Linked DNA regions of Homo sapiens. The protein of the gene in region 2 interacts with the protein of the main gene of each other region in a pairwise test. Each region holds a gene or a part of one and is shown on either strand. Other genes may lie near its edges.

Region 1 (3,826 bases), on a different chromosome or scaffold from region 2:
TTCCCAAAGACTACAGGCATAGGACCAGGTACATAGCAGATACCTTTTATAGACTAGGATGGTAACTACTTTAAAACATTAATTATAATATTGCTTGCTGCAGTATGAATCAGCCAAAAAAGGCTGTATTTTTCATTAAGCAGACCACTAAAATAAGTGTACTAAAACAAGAAAACACCTAAGTCACTTTTCCATATAAAAATATATTCCCTTTAAGGTATCAGTGCAACTCCATTAAGGTAATCATATGTTTAAGCACAAATGAGTCGTTTAACACACAGCATATTGTTCATTTTCCAGCCATTCCTGTTTATATCTTCTATTGCAAAGAGAAAGTTCAACAGAGGGGGGGAAACCTGCCATAATAATTATTATTATTGATTTAATTTCATATACCATTTCTATATTCCAACATAAAAAGCATAAAGTTACAAAGAATTATGAAATAAATAATGTGATAAACTGCACTTGCTATGACTTTCAATATTGAAGACTTAGTAAAGCTACTACAAACACTTAGCTTTGTGGAATGTGAACATTGGCTGTTAAAAAAAAGTTAGTATAATGTATCCTCTCCGGATAAATGTCCAGGAGTTCCAGCAGTTTAAAAGAAATCTGGGCCAGGTGTGGTAGCTCATGCCTGTAGTCCCAGCACTTGGGGAGGCCACAGTAGGACTGCTTAAGCCCAGGAGTTTTAGACTAGCCTAGGCAACATAGCAAGACCCCATCTCTTAAAAAAAATTAAAAATAAGAGAAAATAAATGAATAAAAGATAATCTGATAAATCTAGAGGTTTGCTGATTCTTCTTTTGCTCAATTACTAGTCCTGTCAGCAAATGTAGGCAACACTGAAATCTTGAGTGCTTGCTTAATTGGAAATAAATAAATAAATAAATAAAACCCAAAAACAAAAGAGCTCTATTAGTCACTGAGTATACAAAGATACCAATGCTCAAAAAATTCACACCCCATAGTAAAAACACACAGAACCCCATAACCACATGCACTGTATGCAAGGAGCATCTTCAAATCAGAACTTCTGAAACTCAAGACAATTCTCATATTCCAAATTCTAAACATACTGTAAACGGATCAAGTAAGTCAGGCAATAGCTCTACTCAGGCTATTTTTGTTTCCATTGTTATTACTGCTGAAACAGTTTATAAGAGCTCATCACCTGTTTAGAACACAGAAATACTTCGGTACAAAACAAACCAATTTATTCCTAAGAAGAATTAAAATCTACAGTTATTCAATTCTCTTTACTTATGAAATGTCAATAATGCACAAAAATGTCCAGCGAAAGATGCATAAGGAAACTGCTATTCTCTGTGAACCTTAATTATTATCCCTTTCAACCACTCAAAAGGATATTTACATCCTTTAAGCAACACAGTAAGAAGTAAGCAAAATGGTGACTCAAAGTTACCCCAAAAAAAGGAAAAGGAAAAAATTCATGCAGAAAGGGTACAGAAATTCAAAGCAGATATGTCACTGAATCAAATCAACAACTTTCAACTCTAACGCCCAAGAAATAGTAAGTACATTTGCTCAGGCATTTAGCATTTAAGGAGGGATCAGAAACAAGAACATGGATAACCAAAAGGGGGCATGTTTTGTTTGTGACTTGGTCTGTTCCCTAAACGCAAATTACCTGAATAGTTCTAAATTCAAATGCAATCACTTTCATTAGGAAAAACACATTCCTGCTTAAAATCAGGCTTCATAGCAAGTCTTTACTAATCACAAAAACTGTGTAATTAACACAATTATATAAAGGCAAATTAATGAGTCACACAACATTATTTTTAATGGTGCTTGAAAGACTAATATGCAAAGATTACAACTATGGGGTTTCAAAATTAAAAAACAAAACAAAAATAACCGATAACAACAAGGCAATCACTACTACATAATATTACAGTCTTCCAAGTACAAAGGAAACATTCATGAAAATGAGTGACCAACTTAAAAAACACAAATAAATTCAAGATGAAGCAATACAGATTCAAGAAGCAGGTCAAATATTTCAATTTTTAATAGAAAATACTTAAAGATAACATTCAAATTTCCACTTCTGTTATTTCAGAACCACCTGCCTAAGATATTCAAGGGTCTATTAAACATCTTTGGTGGCTTGAGAAGAGCAACGTAACATTTTGAGCCCTGAACTTATTGCAAAATCCACTAACCAGATGAATGGCAGATTGACAATTACTTCAAACTAGGCAGCAATGAAACATATTTTATTTACACTGCTTTATACTACCTATTGATGTAGAGAATAGTAAATTTAAAATATGGCAGAACACTACACCTGAATTCATTTGAACCTGAATAATAGCTACGGTTTGTTTTTTCCTTGTCTACTGGGATTTTTGACAATGACAAAATGAAAGGAATTACAAACTAATTTGAGGGAAGAGGTTAAAAATTGCTTTTACGGTAATGGTTTGGAAGCAGAACAGTCCTTTAGAAATCAAAAACAGTTGGTCAGCTGTCACATGAATTTTCAAGACCTTGATTCAAAAGTATCATTGTAATTAATAGGTGGGAGAGTTAAGAAAGTGACAACGGGCTGGGCATGGTGGCTCACGCCTGTAATCCAGCACTTTGGAAAGCCGAGGCGGGTGGATCCCTTGAGGTCAGGAGTTCGAGACCAGCCTGGCCAACACGGTGAAACCCCGCCTCTACAAAAAATACAAAAATTAGCCGGGCGTCATGGCGCATGCCTGTAGTCCCAGCTACTAAGGAGGCTGAGGCAGGAGAATCACTGGAACCCACGAGGCAGAGGTTGCAGTGAGCCGAGATCGCACCAACGCACTCCAGCCTGGGAGACAGAGCAAGACTCTGTCTGGAAAAAAAAAAAAAAAAAAAAGAAGACAGTGACAATGGATTTCCTAGAAATACGCAGGAAACTACTTGACAGATGCAAAAGGAGACAGGCAGGTTATAAACTCATGTGGGTTCAAAAGTAACCTAAAATACTCTATCAAAATTGGATCACAAATTCAGGTTAGAAATAAAGCAATTTTATCACATTCTCAGGGAATTTTAATCATCACCTTAAAATAAACTAATAATTAAAAATATGAGAAATGTCTTACAAGAAAATCTATTAATATGTCAAAAATTCTAAGTGCAATCACTGTTGCAATGGAACAATTTTAAAATCACTAATCAAAACAAAATGAACAAACTTGTCCAGACTAAGATAAATCCAAAAAGAATTCTGAATTTTTTTTAAAAAATCTGTTTTAAAAGCACATGCTTTCCTGTGAGTATTCTACCTTATTTTCAACATTATCATTTCCACCTTAAAGAATACACAGCCCTCATTCTCAACTCTGCTTTATTCACTGAAATGGATTCTAAGGCAAATGGTCTCTCCATTAGCCTAAGCCATGCTCTGATTAAGAAACACAGTTTCTTATAAAAGTCTGGGGGATCACAACAAACATTTATATGGGTCACTTCTATGACTATCTATCTAAAACCCAAATACTCCATTTGAGAATTTTGAGGAAATGAATTTTTACAATAGCATTAAAAGTGAACCAAAATATAAGGCCAGTTAACAACATCCATCCTTTTCTGTATTACAAAAACTGTAACAGCGAAATTTTGCTTGTAAAATCCAATGTACATTTTATCATTTTGTATAAAATATCTACGGCCTCAGTAGTGATTAAATTGCAGCTATAAAGGAAATTGACCCGAAATAAATGGTTTCCCTATGAGAAGGCTTCACTGCTACACTTCACCTCAGGACAATAAATCAAATTAACTGCACCTTGTCCTCTGTCCAATGACATCATCAGTTTGA
Region 2 (3,600 bases):
AAGATCCTCCCATCACTTCCCTTTCGCCAACCTGATGTGCCTGATCTTCAGTACCTCCCAAAGCACAAAGAACTCCTGCCTAATTAAAGGCAGAAACTGCAGTACCCAGAGTCACTGTGGGATGGAGAAGATTGTGTGAACCAGCCAGTTTCCAGAACATGGCCTCCCACTCAGCTATCCCCTCTTGAACTAGATGTGGAAAATAAGCCTGACTCTATTTCCCTTGAGCAGAGGCAAATCTGAATGAAAGATGCATTAAAACACAGAAGCGGGCCGGGTGCAATGGCTCACGCCAGTAAGAGAAGAGAGACAGACCCTCTCATATTGTTTTATAATGTTTTATACTCAGAAAAAGAAAGAAAAGCAAAACTAAAGGCAGGTAGCCCGGCGCCTAGGAATCAGACCCGAAACCAGTCCTGGGCCTGCCTGACCTAAGCCTGGTAGTTAAAGACCACCCCGACCTAACTGGTTATGTTATCTACAGATTCCCGACATTGTATGGAAAGGCATTATAAAACTTCCTGGTCTGTTCTGTTTCACTCTGACCACCAGTGCATGCAGCCCCTGTCACGTACCCCCTGCTTGTTCAATTGATCATGACCCTCTCACATGGACCCTCTTAGAGTTGTGAGCCCTTAAAAGGGACAGGAATTGCTCACTCGGGGAGCTCAGCTCTTGAGACAGGAGTCCTGCTGATGCTCCCGGCCAAATAAACCTCTTCCTTCTTTAACTCGGTGTCTGAGGAGTTTTGTCTACGGCTTGTCCTGCTACACCAGTACTTTGGGAGGCTGAGGCGGATGAATCAACTGAGGTCGGGAGTTCCAGACCAGCCTGACTGACATGGAGAAACCCTGTCTCTACTAAAATTACAAAAAAACTTAGCCGGGCGTGCTGGCACGCGCCTATAGTCCCAGCTACTCGGGAGGCTGAGGCAGGAGAATCCCTTGAACCTGGGAAGCAGAGGTTGCAGTGAGCTGAGATCACACCACTGCACTCCAGCCTGGGCGACAGAGTGAGACTCTGTCTCAAAAAAAAAAAAAAAAAAAAAAACCCACAGAAGTGGCTAGGCAAGGTGGCTCATGCCTGTAATCCCAGCACTTTGAGAGGCAGAGGCAGGAGGATTGTTTGAGCCCAGGAGTCTGAGACCAAAATGGATAACATAGCGAGCAAGACCTGCCTCTACTGAAAATTTTTTTTTAATTAGCTAGGCACAGTGGCACGCAACTGTGTTCCCAGCTACACAAGAGGCTGAGGTAGGACGATCATTTGCACCCAGGAGGTCGAAGCTGCAGTGACCCATGATTGTACCACTACATTCCAGCCTGAGTAAGAGAGCAAGACTCTGTCTCAAAACAAAAAACAAAACACAGAGAAACACCTAGAACAGTACCTGGCTCATGAATGAATTCATGAAGCAAGTATTTAAAAAGAGCCACCAGCACTTGGTGCTTTCTTTTTTTTTTTTTTTTAAGACATTTTCCCTCTGTTGCCCAGGCTGGAATGCAGTGGCACAATCTCCACTCACTGCAACCTCTGCCTCCCGGGTTCTCCTGCCTTAGCCTCCCAAGTAGCTGGGATTACAGGCACGTGCCACCATGCCGGGCTAATTTTTCTATTTTTAATAGAGATGGGGTTTCACCACATTGGCCAGGCTGGTCTCAAACTCCTGACCTCATGTGATCCACCTGCCTCAGCCACCCAAAGTGCTGGGATTACAGGCAAGAGCCACCAGGCATGGCCTGGGGCATTTTTATTCAGTGAGAAAAGATGAAAGGCCCTGCTGGGGGTGACAGGGTGGAGACACCCCAGCTATAAATTTCAGAAGGGAACAAACTTGTTTGGCCAAGTGGCCGCCCACCCCCACCGTTAATCTTTCCTGTCCCGTTAGGTGTATTCTCAGAGTAGCAACAGATTCTTCCAAACAAATACAGGTGCCCCACCTCCCTGCAGTACCTCCTTCCCCAGTGGCTCAGCTGGTTAGGCAGCAGTCTCCCTCCAGCTTCCAGAACTCACTCTTTCATTTGTGAAAGCCACTGGCTAATGAAAAACAGAAAACAAAACATTTGAGCCAGGTGCGGTGGCTCACACTGGTAATCACAGCACTTTGGGAGGCCGAGGGGGGAGGATCCCTTGGACCCAGCAGTTAGAGACCAGCCTGGGAATCAGAGCAAGGCCCTGTCTCCACTTAAAAAAAAAAAAAAGAAAAGAAAAGAAAATACAACATTTGAGGACTGGAGCACAAAAACAGAGTTAGCCCCTTGTTAATCAAGCTAAAGATCCAATGTCTCTCTTTTTAGAGAAATACTCTCTGCCTGGGAACTACTTTCCTTACCAGAGGAAAGGTAAGGTAGAGAGAATGAAATCAGAGAGAACTAAGGCAGAAAACTTGGAGAAAACATAAACCTCTGCATGACTTAAGTTCAGGTCTACAACTGGGGCTCCAGTCACTCCAGTCGGCTTGGCTAGGGTGCTCCCTCCTCTTACCTTGTAAGTCCCAGGTCTTATAAGACCCAAGGCAGCACAGTTGGACTTATAAAGCTGACCGCCATCCCTCTCTCCCTGCATTTTCTGCCTGAGCTGGCCAGCAATACTTCCTATACCCTAATGCTTTTATGCAGCAGTAAATTAGCCTTTAAAAAAACATCTAGCCAGGCGCAGTGGCTCATGCCTGTAATCCCAGCAAATGGGAGGCCGAGGCGGGCGGATCACCTGAGTCAGGAGTTCGAAACTAGCATGCCCAACATGGTGAAACCCCATCTCTACTAAAAATACAAAAATTAGCTGGGCATGGTGGCGGGCACCTGTCATCCCAGCTACCGGGATGCTGAGGCAGGAGAATTGCATGAACCCAGAAGGTGAAGGTTGCGGTGAGCTGAGATTGCGCCATTGCACTCCAGCCTGGGCAACAAGGGTGAAACATCGTCTCAAAAATAAATAAATAGATAAATAAATATCTATGGCAAAGAGATCAGATTGACTCTTTTTGTCCTTTTCTAGCATTTTGCTCTTTCCTACAAAATAACAGTGAGAATGGAGCAACAACCTGCAATAGTCCACAGCAGCTCTTTCCCCGCCCTCCTGGAAGTCAGTGCTGCAAGAGGCAAGAGAGCAAGCCGACACAAACTTTCAATTCCTTTTGGGGAAAGCAGCTTCTCCTGCCTTCGCCACCCTCCAGGACTCTAAGGTAGCCCAAGAGCTGCCTCTTCTCTTTTGATATGAACCTAGGGACCCCAAGTTAGACCAGAAATCAGCAATTAGCAACGCTATTCAAAGCAAAAGCATCCCTTTGTCCCCCATGTGTATCCATCACTCAGCATCAAATAAGATCTTTCTCCATTTTGCTCCTCAAAATGTCCTAATGGGTGGCTTTGTCCAAATCCCAGCTAAATGTTCAAATTTGTATCAGGACTCGTTAAAAGCTTCAAAATCTGTCCTTGCCATGGTCAAGGCTTAAAAAAAGGAATAAAAATATTATAAAGAACAAAAATCGTCAGGCGCGGTAGCTCATGTCTGTAATCCCAGCACTTTGGGAGGCTGAGGCAGGCAGTTCACTTGAGGTCAGAAGTTCGAGACCAGTCTGGCCAACATGGTGAAACCCTG
Region 3 (3,826 bases), on a different chromosome or scaffold from region 2:
CCTGAAAATCTGATCGCCGTGGACCCTATGTGACACTCAGTGTAACTGAGAGGGCTCTGGAAAGCCAAGCTGAACTTTTAATTAGTAAAGCAAATCATGGAAAACTGACAAGTCTGCTTTATATTTTATATGTAAAAAAGCAACATGGGTTTTTTAAAATGTGCGTTTTCCAGGGGTAGTTTTTGGTGACTGCTCTGCAGATTTTTAAGGCAATGTTAAACAACATTTTTATTTTTATTGTGAAACCTTTTTTTTATTGTTTATTCAAAGTGCTGCTGTAATTGGTGTTTGTATGTCTCTCTCTTAAGTGTGGTTTGCAGTGAATCACTTGTTGCCCCTTAAACAGTTAGCCTGGATTTAACCTCCAAGAGATTAAGTCTGGCAGAGTCTGAATTTTACACTGCTCTTTTCTTTGGAAGCTCTTCTGAAATCAGTGGAATAGAAATACAGGGGTACGAACAGCTCATCTGACAGGTAGGGAAGATTAATCCCCTTTAGAAAGGTTTCAGCTGGTGGACTGGCACTCCTTTAAAATGCATTCCCTGAGAGGCCAGGATGGGAAAAGTTATTAGTGAAATGGGAACTGGATGTGAAGGACTTGAGCTCCCTAATCTGCAGGACCTGGCTAGTCTGTTGTAGTGCTGGAAATTTGTGTACTCTTTGTAATCCTTTCCCTTGGAGAGTTCTAATTATATAATTCCACATTGTAGTCAGGGAAAAGAAAGTTAACGCTACAAACTGTTACTCCTTCCCAGGGTTTATAACCATCTTCTAAAATGGTTCCTTGATGACAGGCCTTTCCTTTTGGTGTTTATCTGGTTCATTCCCTGGGAACCTGGAGGGGACACTGTGAAGGACTCCCTCCTCCTCCTCTTCCACACCCCATCAGCGTCTTGTGGTTTCCACGTGGTGAAGGGCTGGGCAGCCCAATTTTGGGTTTACCTTGAGGTGCCTCCTTGGGGGCTCCTCGGGGCGGGCTCTTCCTTGCTCTTGCCCATTGGTTGTGACTCCATACATTGTCATTAGGATATTTCCTTTTTGGGAGCCCCGTGGTGACCACCAAGTGGAGAATACCAAGCATGTAAGGTTTCAAAGTAAAGAAACCAGGGGGCTTTGTTTTGCAGTGGAAGCATTGCTAGCTAGGTCTGGATTTTTATTGGTTGCACCCCAGCTGCATGGCCAATAGCAATTTCATGAAGGGACTGTTGGGTTGAAGGGACTGGCTTTGAAAACATTACTTCTCAGTGACCCTTTGGGCTCTTAGGTTCTGCTTTGCCCCACAACACCACCATAACACTGTTGAGGCTTTCAGTGGGTAGTGTGGGCTTCTTGAGTTTTGAAAGTAAAAATCCAAGCAACAAGAGGCGCTCCAGCCCATTAATTATAGCTGCAACTGGCCGGGGTTTTGTAGCAGCCGCCTTTTTCTAGCATGTATTTATTTGGTTTTGTTGAAGAGCTTGCCAAGTTGGAAACGAGGGCGGGACAGCTTTGCTTGCGTGTGCAGTTGTCATAAAATATGTCTGGGGTGTAATCTGTTTAAAATCATATTCGTAGAGTGGCCAAAGAATTGTTGAACAGTGTTGGGAATTTTCATAAAGCTTTTACAAAATAGGGAATTTTATTGGTGTGGTTGGCACTGTTTTTGGGATTTCTGTGGGTGTTTTCTTTTTAAGTCCTATCTCTGAAAAAAGCAAAAAACTCAAAAGCTAAAGGGAAGGAAATAATTACAGAAAAATGTAGCTTAATTCGACTAAGTAGCTTGGTCCTCTAGAAATCCTTAAGTTCTAGTGGGAAGTGGTGTGTATGTCTTTAATTGTCGCTGGAATGAGCTTCAGTAAGCACTCTGTCACTTTCTAGATGTTATCAGAGGAGAATGTGGCGGCTGCTTCAAGTCCTCCTGGAGTGGGGGAGGGTTCCCCTAAATCCCAAATACTCCTAGCCTAATGGTTTCCACACCCTCCTGGAGGGATAGTTAACACAATGGGCAGTTAAAATAAGGAAATGTTTAGGCCTGAACTCCTCATTGTAGGCTTGTGCTGTGGAATATAGTAGCCACCAGGCACACACAGCTATATAAGTTAAAATTAATTAAAATTAAAAGAAATTAAAGATTCACTTCCTCCCCTTCACTGGCTTCATTTCAGGTGTCAGTAGCCACAAATTGCTATGCAAAAATGTCACTGGGATTTTAGTAGAGGTTGCATTGAATTGGTAGATGGATCTGAGTAGTATTAACTTTTTTTTTTTTTTTTGAGTTAAGGTCTTGCTCTGTCACCCAGGCTGGAGTGCAGTGGTGCAAACACGGCTCACTACCTCTGGCCTTAACCTCCTGGGCTAAGCCTCTACCTCCTGGGCTCAAGTTATCCTCCCATCTTAGCCTCTGAAGTAGCTGGAACCACAGGCACGCGCTACCGTGCCTGGCTAATTCTTTGATTTTTTTTCGTAGAGATGGAGGTCCACTTGTGTTGCCCAGGCTGGTCTTGAACTCCTGGGCTGAAGGGATTCCCCACCCCCACCCCAGTCCTGGGATCGTAGGCATGAGCCACCTCACTGGCCATCATCTTAACAGTATTGTCTTCCTGTCCATAAACACAGGATGTCTTAACATTTATTTAGACCTTTCATTTCTTTCAGCAATGTTTTTTAGTTTTTAGTGTATGAGTCTTTTGCCTCTTAAGTTAAATCTATTCCTGAGTATTTTATTCTTTTCGAGCTGTTGTAATTGGAATTGTGTTTTTTAAATTTCCTTTTCACATTGCCCACTGTTAGTGCACAGAAATGTAACATTTTTGTGTGTTGATTTTCTAACCTGCAAGCTTGTGGAATTTGCTTATTAGCTCAAATAGCATTTTTGTAGCTCTTATTCTGTATGTAAAGTCGTATCATCTACAAATAGGCATAATTTTACTTCTTCCTTTACAATTTGGATGCCTTTTATTATTTTTGGTCTTGCCTAATTGCTCAGCCTGGAACTTCCAATACAGTCATGGGCCAAATAATGATGTTTTCAGACGATGGACCACCTATATGACAGTGGTCCCATAAGATAACACTACTGTATATGACTGTGCCTTTTATATGGTTAGATACACAAATGCTTCCCATCCTGTTACAGTTGCCTACAGTATTCAGTACAGCCACATGCTGTATAGGTTTGTTGTAGCCTAGGAGAAGTAGGCTACACCACATAGCCTAGGTGTGCAGTTTGTGTGAGGGACACTCTATGATGTTCATATGATGATGAAATTGCCCAGGGACACATTTCCCAGAATGTATCGTCATCGTTGAGCAACGCATGACTGTACTGTGTTGAATAGAAGAGGTGAAAATGGGCATTCTTGTCTTGTTCCTGATCTTGGAGGAAAAGCTTTCAGTCTTTTAACATTGAGTGTGATGTTTGCTGGGCTTGTCGTATATGGCTTTTACTATGTTGAGGTGGTTTCCTTTCTATTAGTTTATTCTCATTTTTTGGTATATTTTTGACTTTTAGAACATGCTAACATTCTACAAGTTCAAAAAATAAATCACTAAGAATAGCAGGAAACTAGAATTGAATACAAAGAAGCACATAAATGCAAATGTGTTGCAAATGAGTAACATGACTACACAGATGGGGGAAAAGAAACCGTAATGTTGGACTCAGTGCTTTGACGGTGTATCCTCAGCCTACAGGAGAAACAACAACCTGAAAGCAAAACTGGCACCCTTCTTAGTAGGTTTGATTTTCATAGTGGTGTGGGTATATCCATTCTGAAATGACTTTGTGTGAATTGTGAGATTAGACAGATAAGAAGTGTGTTAATAGTGTTGTAGCCAGGGTGCTCAC

The links.
Region 1: the proteins of STOX1 (region 2) and POU2F1 interact in binary tests that used the Homo sapiens proteins (3 or more experiments, as listed by UniProt).
Region 3: the proteins of STOX1 (region 2) and ROR2 interact in binary tests that used the Homo sapiens proteins (3 or more experiments, as listed by UniProt).

What each region holds. Positions count from the first base shown.
Region 1 is NC_000001.11:167,223,878-167,227,703, reverse strand, and holds part of POU2F1 (POU domain, class 2, transcription factor 1), read right to left. Parts: intron 1-3,826. UniProt on the Homo sapiens protein: Transcription factor that binds to the octamer motif (5'-ATTTGCAT-3') and activates the promoters of the genes for some small nuclear RNAs (snRNA) and of genes such as those for histone H2B and immunoglobulins.
Region 2 is NC_000010.11:68,830,531-68,834,130, reverse strand, and holds part of STOX1 (storkhead-box protein 1), read right to left. Parts: intron 1-3,600.
Region 3 is NC_000009.12:91,943,506-91,947,331, reverse strand, and holds part of ROR2 (tyrosine-protein kinase transmembrane receptor ROR2 isoform 1 precursor), read left to right. Parts: intron 1-3,826. UniProt on the Homo sapiens protein: Tyrosine-protein kinase receptor which may be involved in the early formation of the chondrocytes. It seems to be required for cartilage and growth plate development. Phosphorylates YWHAB, leading to induction of osteogenesis and bone formation.